Linked DNA regions of Homo sapiens: region 2 is linked to region 1. Evidence: fine-mapped expression QTL. Tissue or cell type: whole blood. Region 1 holds a variant in brackets; the other region holds the start of a gene. All regions are shown on one strand. Distances are from middle to middle.

What was found. PIP is the estimated chance that this variant, and not a neighbour inherited with it, causes the effect.
Region 2: it holds the start of SLC25A29, and the variant in region 1 is fine-mapped to the expression of SLC25A29 in whole blood (INTERVAL, PIP above 0.99).

What each region holds. Positions count from the first base shown.
Region 1 is chr14:100,269,144-100,273,143 of GRCh38, reverse strand. All of the region lies in intron 2 of YY1 (YY1 transcription factor), which reads right to left. Among named protein-coding and RNA genes, the nearest start is that of MIR6764, 6.2 kb to the left of the region's middle. The variant C/T (reference allele first, on the strand shown) is at 1,940.
Region 2 is chr14:100,304,294-100,308,938 of GRCh38, reverse strand. It overlaps SLC25A29 (solute carrier family 25 member 29), which reads left to right and starts at 2,495. Exons shown (of 4, transcript NM_001039355.3): 1 at 2,495-2,740. The coding sequence starts at 2,707. It overlaps MIR345 (microRNA 345), which reads right to left and starts at 1,080; the gene lies at 983-1,080. RefSeq lists enhancers at 1,515-1,684, 1,715-1,784, 2,993-3,559, 3,812-3,871, 3,922-4,001 and silencers at 1,875-1,944, 2,035-2,504, 2,565-2,664.

The sequences.
Region 1 (4,000 bases):
AAAATACAAAAATTAGCCGGGTGTGGTGGCAGATGCCTGTAATCCCAGCTACTTAGGAGGAGGCTGAGGGAGGAGAATTGCTTCAGCCAGAGAGGCGGAGGTTGCCGTGAGCCGGGATCGTGCCACTGCACTCCAGCCTAGGCGGCAAGAAGGAAATACCGTCTCAAAAAAAAAAAAACAAAAAAAAAACAACAAAAAACTAGCTGGGGGCCACTACTCTGAGTGAAGTAACTCAGGAATGGAAAATCAAACGCGGTATGTCCTCACTTATAAGTGGGAACTAAGCTATGAGGATACAAGTGATATAATGGACTTTGGGGACTTAGTAGGGAAAGAATGGTGTGGGATAAAAGACTACATACCGGATACAGTGTACACTGCTCTGGCGAGGGGTGCACTCGGACCTCAGAATTCATCAATATAGAATTCATCCATGTAACCAAAAACCACTTATACACCAAAAGCTATTGAAATTTTTTAAAAAGTCAAAGTCGAAAAAAAAAAAGCCCACCTAAGTGAATCCTTAAAAGCAAGAGCTAATTTACCACCACTCTTTTGTTACAAAAAAAATACTCCTTAAAAAAAAATTAATTCTGTGATCTTTTAAGTTTGTGAAGGCCCTAACAATGTCCTTCTTCACTTATAATCTGGGAAAAGGATGACCTGATCTGTAACCTGAACACATGAAATCATTGGTTAAACTTTCCAGCCCTAGGAGTATATGAGGAACAACAGATCTGGTAACTATCACTTATCTCCATGGAGTTGGTCCGATACTATACATATTTGTTATTTTAAATTCTACGAGAACATTTTCTCTTTTCCTTTTCTTTCTTTTTTTTTTTTTTGAGACAGAGTCTCACTCTGTCACCCAGGCTGGAGTGCAGTGGCGCTATCTCGGCTCACTGCAAGCTCCGCCTCCCAGGTTCATGCCATTCTCCTGTCTCAGCCTCCTGAGTAGCTGGGACTACAGGCGCCCGCCACCATGCCCGGCTAATTTTTTTGTATTTTTGTAGAGATGGGGTTTCACCATGTTAGCCAGGATGGTCTTGATCTCCTGACCTCGTGATCCGCCCACCCACGAGAACATTTTCAATTCAGTGTCCTCCCCCTTCCCAACCCTGTAGATATTCGTCCTTTCTCGTAAATGGATTATAGATTGAGCATCCCTAACATCCAAAATCCAAAATCTGAAACTATCTGAGTGCTAACATGATGCACTCGTGTGATAGGGTCACAGTGAAAACTTTGTTTCGTGTACAAAATTATTTAAAATACTGTATAACAGCCTGGGCAAGAAAGCAACACCCCGTCTCTAAAAAAAATAAAAAGTTAGCCAGGCGTGGTGGCACATGCCTACAGTCCCAGCTACTTGGGAGGCTGAGGAGGTAGAATCCTTTCAGCCCAGGAATTTGAGGCTGCGATCCAACTTCGGTGACAGAACGAGACCTTGTTTCAAAAAAAAAAAAGTACAGAATTGCCTTCAGGCTATGTGTATAAGGTGTAATGAAACACAAATGAATTTCAAATTTCGTATTTAAACCCGAGTCCTAGCCTTAAGATAACTCATTATGCATATGCAAAACCCCAAAATCCAAAGTGCTACTGTTCCTAAGCATTTTGAATAAAGGATGCTCAACCTGTAATACCAGTTAGCAAGTTTTTTTAAGTGCCTGTTGTAAACAGGACTCTGAACTAGCCTTTCTTATCTTAAATACAAATAAATCCTGGAGTTCTGGCCTGAGTTCACAAAATCAGGTAGAACAAAAGTTTGGTGCCACTGCGCCACCTTGAGGTTACATCAGTTTGGAAAATAACAGTGATTGATATGAAAGGTCTCTATTCCACTCAAACATTATTTATTTTTAATTTAATTTAATTAATTTATTTATTTTTTGAGGCAGAGTCTCGCTCTGTCGCCCAGGCTGGAGTGCAGTGG[C/T]GCAATCTCAGCTCACTGCAAGCTCTGCCTCCCAGGTTCATGCCATTCTCCTGCCTCAGCCTCCCGAGTAGTTGGGACTACAGGTGTCCGCCACTATGCCCGGCTAATATTTTGTATTTTTAGCAGAGACGGGGTTTCTTACCGTGTTAGCCAGGATGGTCTCGATCTCCTGACCTCGTGATCCGCCTGCCTTGGCCTCCCAAAGTGCGGGGATTACAGGCGTGAGCCACCGCGCCCAGCCTATTTTTTTTTTTTAAGTTTTAATGTTCCCAATTAAGAGTGAACACTTATTCTTTGAAAATTCTACTGAAACATTGTTTTATTTTGTTTTTGTAGAGATGTGGTTTCACCATGTTGCCCAGACTATTCTCAACTCCTGAGCTCAAGCAATCCACCTGCCTAGGACTCCTTGGAAACATTCTGTGTTGAGTGTGAAGATGGCTACATGACTGTTTGTCCAAATTCACAGAATAGTACATACATACCTAAAAGGGGGGTAGACTTTACCATATGCAAATTAAATCTTAGTAAACATGGCTTAGTAAGGTCCTCTCTCATACATTTTCTTTTCTTTTCTTTTTTGAGATGGAGTTTCACTCTTTTGCCCAGGCTGGAGTGAAGTGGTTTGATCTTGGCTCACTGCAACCTCCGCCTCCTGGGTTCAAGCGATTCTCCTGCCTCAGCCTCCTGAGTAGCTGGGATTACAGGCGCGTGCCACCATGCCTGGCTATTTTTTTTTTTTTTTTTTGTATTTTTAGTAGAGACGGGGTTTCACCATGTTGGTCAGGCTGGTCTGGAACTCTTGACCTCAGGTGATCCACCTACCTCGGCCTCCCAAAGTGCTAGGATTACAGGCATGAGCCACGGCACCCGGCCTCCCATACATTTTGCTAGAGTTATTCCTAGTAACTTAATTTTTTTTTTTTTTTTTTTTTTTTTTTTGAGACAGAGTCTTGCTCTGTCGCCCAGGCTGGAGTGCAGTGGTGCAATCTTGGCTCACTGCAAGCTCCGCCTCCCAGGTTCAGGCCATTCTCCTGCCTCAGCCTCCTGAGTAGCTGGGACTACAGGCGCCTGCCACCACACCAGGCTAATTTTTTTGTATTTTTAGTAGAGACGGGGTTTTACCGTGCTAGCCAGGATGGTCTCGATCTCCTGACCTCGTGATCCACCTGCCTCAGCCTCGCAAAGTGCTGGGATTACAGGCATGAGCCACCGCGCCTGGCCACTTAATTTTTTAAAAGATATTTTATCATGGAAATTTTCAAATACGCCCCCAAAGTAAAGAGAACAGTCTCAGGTACCATTTACCCAACTCTTGGTTTGTTATTATAAGTGGTATTATTTTTTCTTAAAATGTCATTTTCAAAATGTGTGCTAGTATTTAGAAATATATTTAATTTTAGAATGAGAGTTTAAAATGCATTTGGACAAATACCCTTGGACTTAAGGAGTAAGTGGAAGATTTAAATGCAGCCACTCTTAAGCTCCTTGGCAAATCATCCTCCTTCACACAGAGTGGCAAATGCAGCAGTATACGTTGGTACTTTTAAGATTTTATTTGAATGCCAACAATGAAAAAAGTCATTTTTCAAAAATATACTTAGGTTAAAACAGTGTTTCATTTTGCGAGTAAACAGTAAAAATCATATACTACCACTGAGAACATCTTCTCACCCTCCTCAACTATTCAGAAGTAACTAAGATTTAAGTCTTCCATTCACCAACGGACACTTTTGAACCCAGAGAGTCCTTTTGAACCTGGAGACAATGATGACAACAGCATAGACATTATGAATGAGGCAGTATGGGATGTGTGACTTGGAGGTGACTTCTACTAGCTGCATGACCTTGAGCAAACTGTAACTTCTCGGCCTCGGTTTCTTATTCTGTAAAAAGGTATAATGCTACCTACTTAAGAGCTGTATGTTAAGCACCTGGGAAATGATAGCTCTTATTACCATTGGCTATGTGTGAAATGGGTCTAGCTAAAAATGAGTTCATTCTTAACCACCCTTCGATAAAGGACTGAGAAACTGGAGAAAGCATGGCACTAGGAGGAAC
Region 2 (4,645 bases), 35 kb before region 1:
TCCCCCGACCACACACACACACCCAGAACCCTGCCCTCTCCTTGCAAAGTGCACAGCTAAGGGCCCGCACTCCTCATCTCCCAGGCCTGGCACGATCCCACTGCTGCCCTCACACGGCCTGCCTCAGCTCTCTCAACAAAGGACCCTCCCTGCAAGGAGGTTTTTCTTTTTGAAATAGGGTCTTGCTCTGTCATCCAGGCTGGTGCACAATGGTTCGATCATAGCTCACTGCAGCCTTGACCTCCTGGGCTCAAGCGACCCTCCTGCCTCGGCCTCCTGAGTAGCTAGGACTACAGGCCTGCAGGCATGCGCCACCACATCCTGCCGATTTTTTTTTTTTTTAGAGATGGGGCCTCACTATGTTGCCCAGGCTGGCCTCAAACTCCTGGCTTCAAGCGATCCTCCTGCCTCAGCCTCCCAAAGTGCCTGGATTACAGGCATGAGCCACTGAACCCAGCCTCAAGGAGGTTTCTGAAGCTCAACTATGGAATACCTACTGTTTACCAGGCTACTAGGCCCCTTCCCAAGGACCCCAGGGACTGACAGCTCAGTGCAACCTGCCCCAAGCATAATTTTCAAGGCATGTGCATTCTCTCAATAACAAAGCAAAACAGGTCATGCTTGTCTCCTTATCCGTTTCCATCATTTTCTCACTACTGCCACATGCTGTCAAGGTACTGGATTTCCCTCCCAAACCTCCTCAACCAGGAATGGATGTGCAGGGATTTGTGCTTTACCTCATGAGCCCTCCAGCATCCCAAGGACATCCTGTTCCTAAGGTAAGTGACTACATGTAGGTAGTCCAGTGTAATCACTGTGTCTGCAGGAGGCCTCCAGCCACCTGAGTAGCCCCACAGCCAGCTCCTGCCCTTTTGGGTCTGGGCTTCTCTTGGGGCCCCCATACCACTGCTTTTCTGGCCCATGGGCCACTCTCCCCCATCCGCACACCTGCCTCCCTGAGGCAACCAAGTGGGTCAGAGAGGCTGTCGATATTCAAACCCAGGCCTCCAGACCCCTCGTTCAGGGCCCACCAGCCATCACGAGCCCTGGACTAGGAGTCAGCAGACCTAGGGTTTGGGTCTCTGCTTAACATTCTACTTAGACTCTAAAAGGAAACTAACATGAGCACTGGGGACCCCTGCCCCTAGCACCAGGCTGCACTACTGACAACACCTACCTGTGTGTCCTAGTACCAAATACACAGAACCTTTCGACCTGCACCTCCAGGAGGTAGGTACCCACTGGAATTTGGATAAAAGAACCATGTGACCCTAAACCTGGAAACGTGGCACACGGTGTGGCCTTGCCTGCCTGCAGGCCCTAAAGAAGGAAGCTGGGCCCGGCCTAAGGCTGATCTGACTCCTACAGCGAAGAGAAAGCGCCTGGCCCGTCCCTGCTCCCAGGCTCCAACCTGACAGTCTGGACCTCCAGAGGCGCTGGGGAAGGGCTGGTGGGAAGTCACCGAATGGGACGCTCCACAGGGACCAGGGCAGTCCCTTGCCACTGCGAATGTCAGGGACTCCTGGGGGGCCGAGTCAGACTCGGCTCTCATTCATCCCCGCAGCCCATGGATACCCTGGTGACCCAGAGCCAAGCACCCTCCGACTTCAGCGCCTGAGCGCGGCCCCTACCGAGCCCCTCCGGTCTCGCCCCGTCCGGCCGCCGCTGACGGAGGCGCTGCGATCTGGCCCGACTCCACTCTGCAGCCCAGTCCAGGAACCTCCCTCTCTCCACAACCTTCCGCGGCTCCCGCGACCCGCAGTCCTCGGGAAGGAGCTGTGGCCCGAAGGCCTGCTGCGCCCTTTGCCCATGGCCCCTTTCCCTTTTAAGGTTCCCTGCTCTCCGCCCAAATCCCAGCCTCAGGCTCCGCAGGAAGCGCCCGTGCGCGTCCGACCCCCAGAACCCGGCGGGTTCGGCCAGGAGTCCGGAAGCCCCGGAGGCCACCGCCGCCGCGGGCGCGCAGGCGGGACGGGCAGAGGCTCCCCACGGGCGATTCCCGCTCGCGGAGTTTCGCAACTAGCGGCGTCCCAGTCTGCGGGCCTCGGAACGTCCCGGCGCTCCACGGCCGTTTTCGCGGCAGGGTCCGCACGGCACAGACTAGGGCGCTGAGGTTCTGCGGCGGCGCCGGACTCCGAACCCAGGGTCCGGTTCCCGACCCGGTCCAGACCAGAGCCACCCCGCGTACTCCGGGTGGGGGAGTCCTCGGCTCAACCCCGCCACCCCGCGCGTCCCCTCCCGCCGGACCTGCGCACCCAGCGCGCTCTTTGTCTGAGGCGTCCCCGCGCCCCGCCCGCGCGCCCACCACGTCCCCCGCGCCCCGCCTCCCGCGCACGCCCGGCCAATGAGGCGCGGCGGCGAAGCGCAGTGCCCGGGGTGTTGTCCGCGCCGTGCCCGCCCATTGGCCTCACTCGGCGCCCCCACCCGGGCCCTGCCGGCAGGCACGAGGGGCGGGGCGCGCGGCCCGAGGTGAGGGACCGCGGGCCGGAGGGGATCCAGCGAGTCAGCTGCCGCCGAGGGACCAGCGCGGGTCTAGCTGCTGCCGCCATCCCCACCATCCCTGACCGCGCCTGCCCGGGCTCCGCGCCAGGAGGAGCGGCCAGGCCCAGCCCCGGCACCGCGCGCTCGGGGACCCCGACGGCGCCCAGCCCGGCGAGGGGCCTCAGGGGGAGGACGAGGAGGAAAGGCGGCCTCGCCGGGGACCCGGCCATGGCGCTGGACTTCTTGGCTGGATGCGCGGGGGGTAAGGAGGCGGCGGGCCGGGCCGGGCCGGGGCGAGGCGTCCGGGGAGGGAGGTCGGCCCACCAGCACGCCCTGGCCTCGCGGCTTCCCGCTGGCGGGGGTCGCCGCGTCTGTGAATGGGGACCACAGTTCTCTTGCCTCGGGCGGGTCTCGTGGGCGTAAATTGACTTCAGGCCCGGGCTGTCCGCGAGGGCAGGTGTCTTTATTCTCTCTGGGCACGCTCGGACGGGAGGTCTGGGGCGCCGGGGCAGCACCGTGGCTGAGCGGAGGCCAGGACTGCCGGGAGGATGCCCCACTGCCCCCCGCGCCGAGGTCCCGGGCTCATCTCCTTCCCCTCCCCCATCCCCATCCGTTGCGCACTGGGAGCAGGGTCCCCTCCCCCGGCCGTATATTTCGGGACTGACTCCACCCCGTCCCGCGCAGCCATCCAGCGGGGTTGGGGCTACGGAGCCGACCCCCTACTCGGCTGGCCTTGGAGGGCACTGAACCACTCTGGCGCCGAGTCACGCCTTGGAACGCCGCCCCTTCCTACGCGGTTTTGTGAGCTGTTGGGGGCGGAAGGGGGGTGGTGGGTGGGTCGGGCGAGCCGGTGTGGGGCACCTTCTCCGAGGCGCGGTCGCGGCTCTGGGGTTCCTCCCATGCAGTTGTCCCCGGGAGGGCCCGGGCGGGCGTGCAGTCCAGGCTCTCCCATGCCCCGACCGTGGGCGTCGGGCACGGCACTTCCCTGTTGGGCCTCTGGCTTCTCTGCTTTTACCTTGAGGGTTAATTTATTCACCAGGATTTAGATGTCGGGGGCGGGGGAGGGTGGTTGGCGGCGGGAGTTGCTGAGAGGGCCGGCCGCTTATCCCTGTTTGGTCCCACTTTTCTCCCAGCACCTGCCCTTGTTCACCGCCTCTTCATCTACTTGGATTTGGCTCGAATAAACCCTCAGCTCCCGGCCAGCGCTGAGAGCCCTGGCGGAAGAGTGGGTAGCGGTGGCCTTAAGTATTAAATCTGTGGCGTCGGAGCCTGCTTCTTGGGGGAGAGACTCGTTGAAAAGGGAGTGTGTTGGGGAGGTGTTGTGCGCTGAGGGGAGTTAGAACTTCCCGGTCGGTTACCCAGTGGGAAGCTGCGGGGCACAAAGCCCAGAATTTGCTGCTAATCGCTGGGTGCCCTGGAGACAGAGGGGGCGTGTCCTCTGCGGATTCCATTCTCACCTTCCCCTCCCGCTTCTGATCTCGCTGTTTGCTCCACCCTTGCTCCCCACCCACTATCAGCTCCAGCGGGTGGGGGTGAAGGGCTGTCCCCAGGCCAACACCTCCTTCCAGGCTTTGGGGAGTGGGGATTCTTTCCCCGGATGGGCAGAGTTCCTTCTGCAGTGGCGCTACCGTCCGTGCTGCCCTCCTGGAAACACCGGGGTTTGGGGCAGGAACACTTCACCTGAAAGCAGGCCTGCTTGGCGCCTCCCGGCACATCTGTGGTCTCCTCTGCACGTCGCTCGCGCAGCCTCCTTGCCTGGAATGTCCTTCGCTGCCCATCCTCATAGGCCCACCTGGGAGAGATCATATCCATGCCCCCTGCCCCAGGTTTGTGGGTCAAGGACTGGCACTGTCTGGTGCTGTAGCACTGGGGCACAGGCCACCCCCCTGCCCCCAGGCCCTGCTTTTCGTGCAACCCCCAGGCACATAATGGCCACCCAGCTAAGGCTCTACAAGCGTAAGCCTGAGCCTCCCAGGTGGACAAGGACAGAAGTCACCTGGGGGCTCACTCCTGGTCTCATCGGAGAAACCTAGGCCCAGAGAGGTGGGGGTACTAAAGCAAAGTCACACCACATGCTCCTCTGATGGCCAGGGTGAGCCTGCAGTCCTCTCCTCTCCCCCTTACTCCAGGGTGCTGGGGTGGCCCCTCAGGACAGTGAACTGACTGT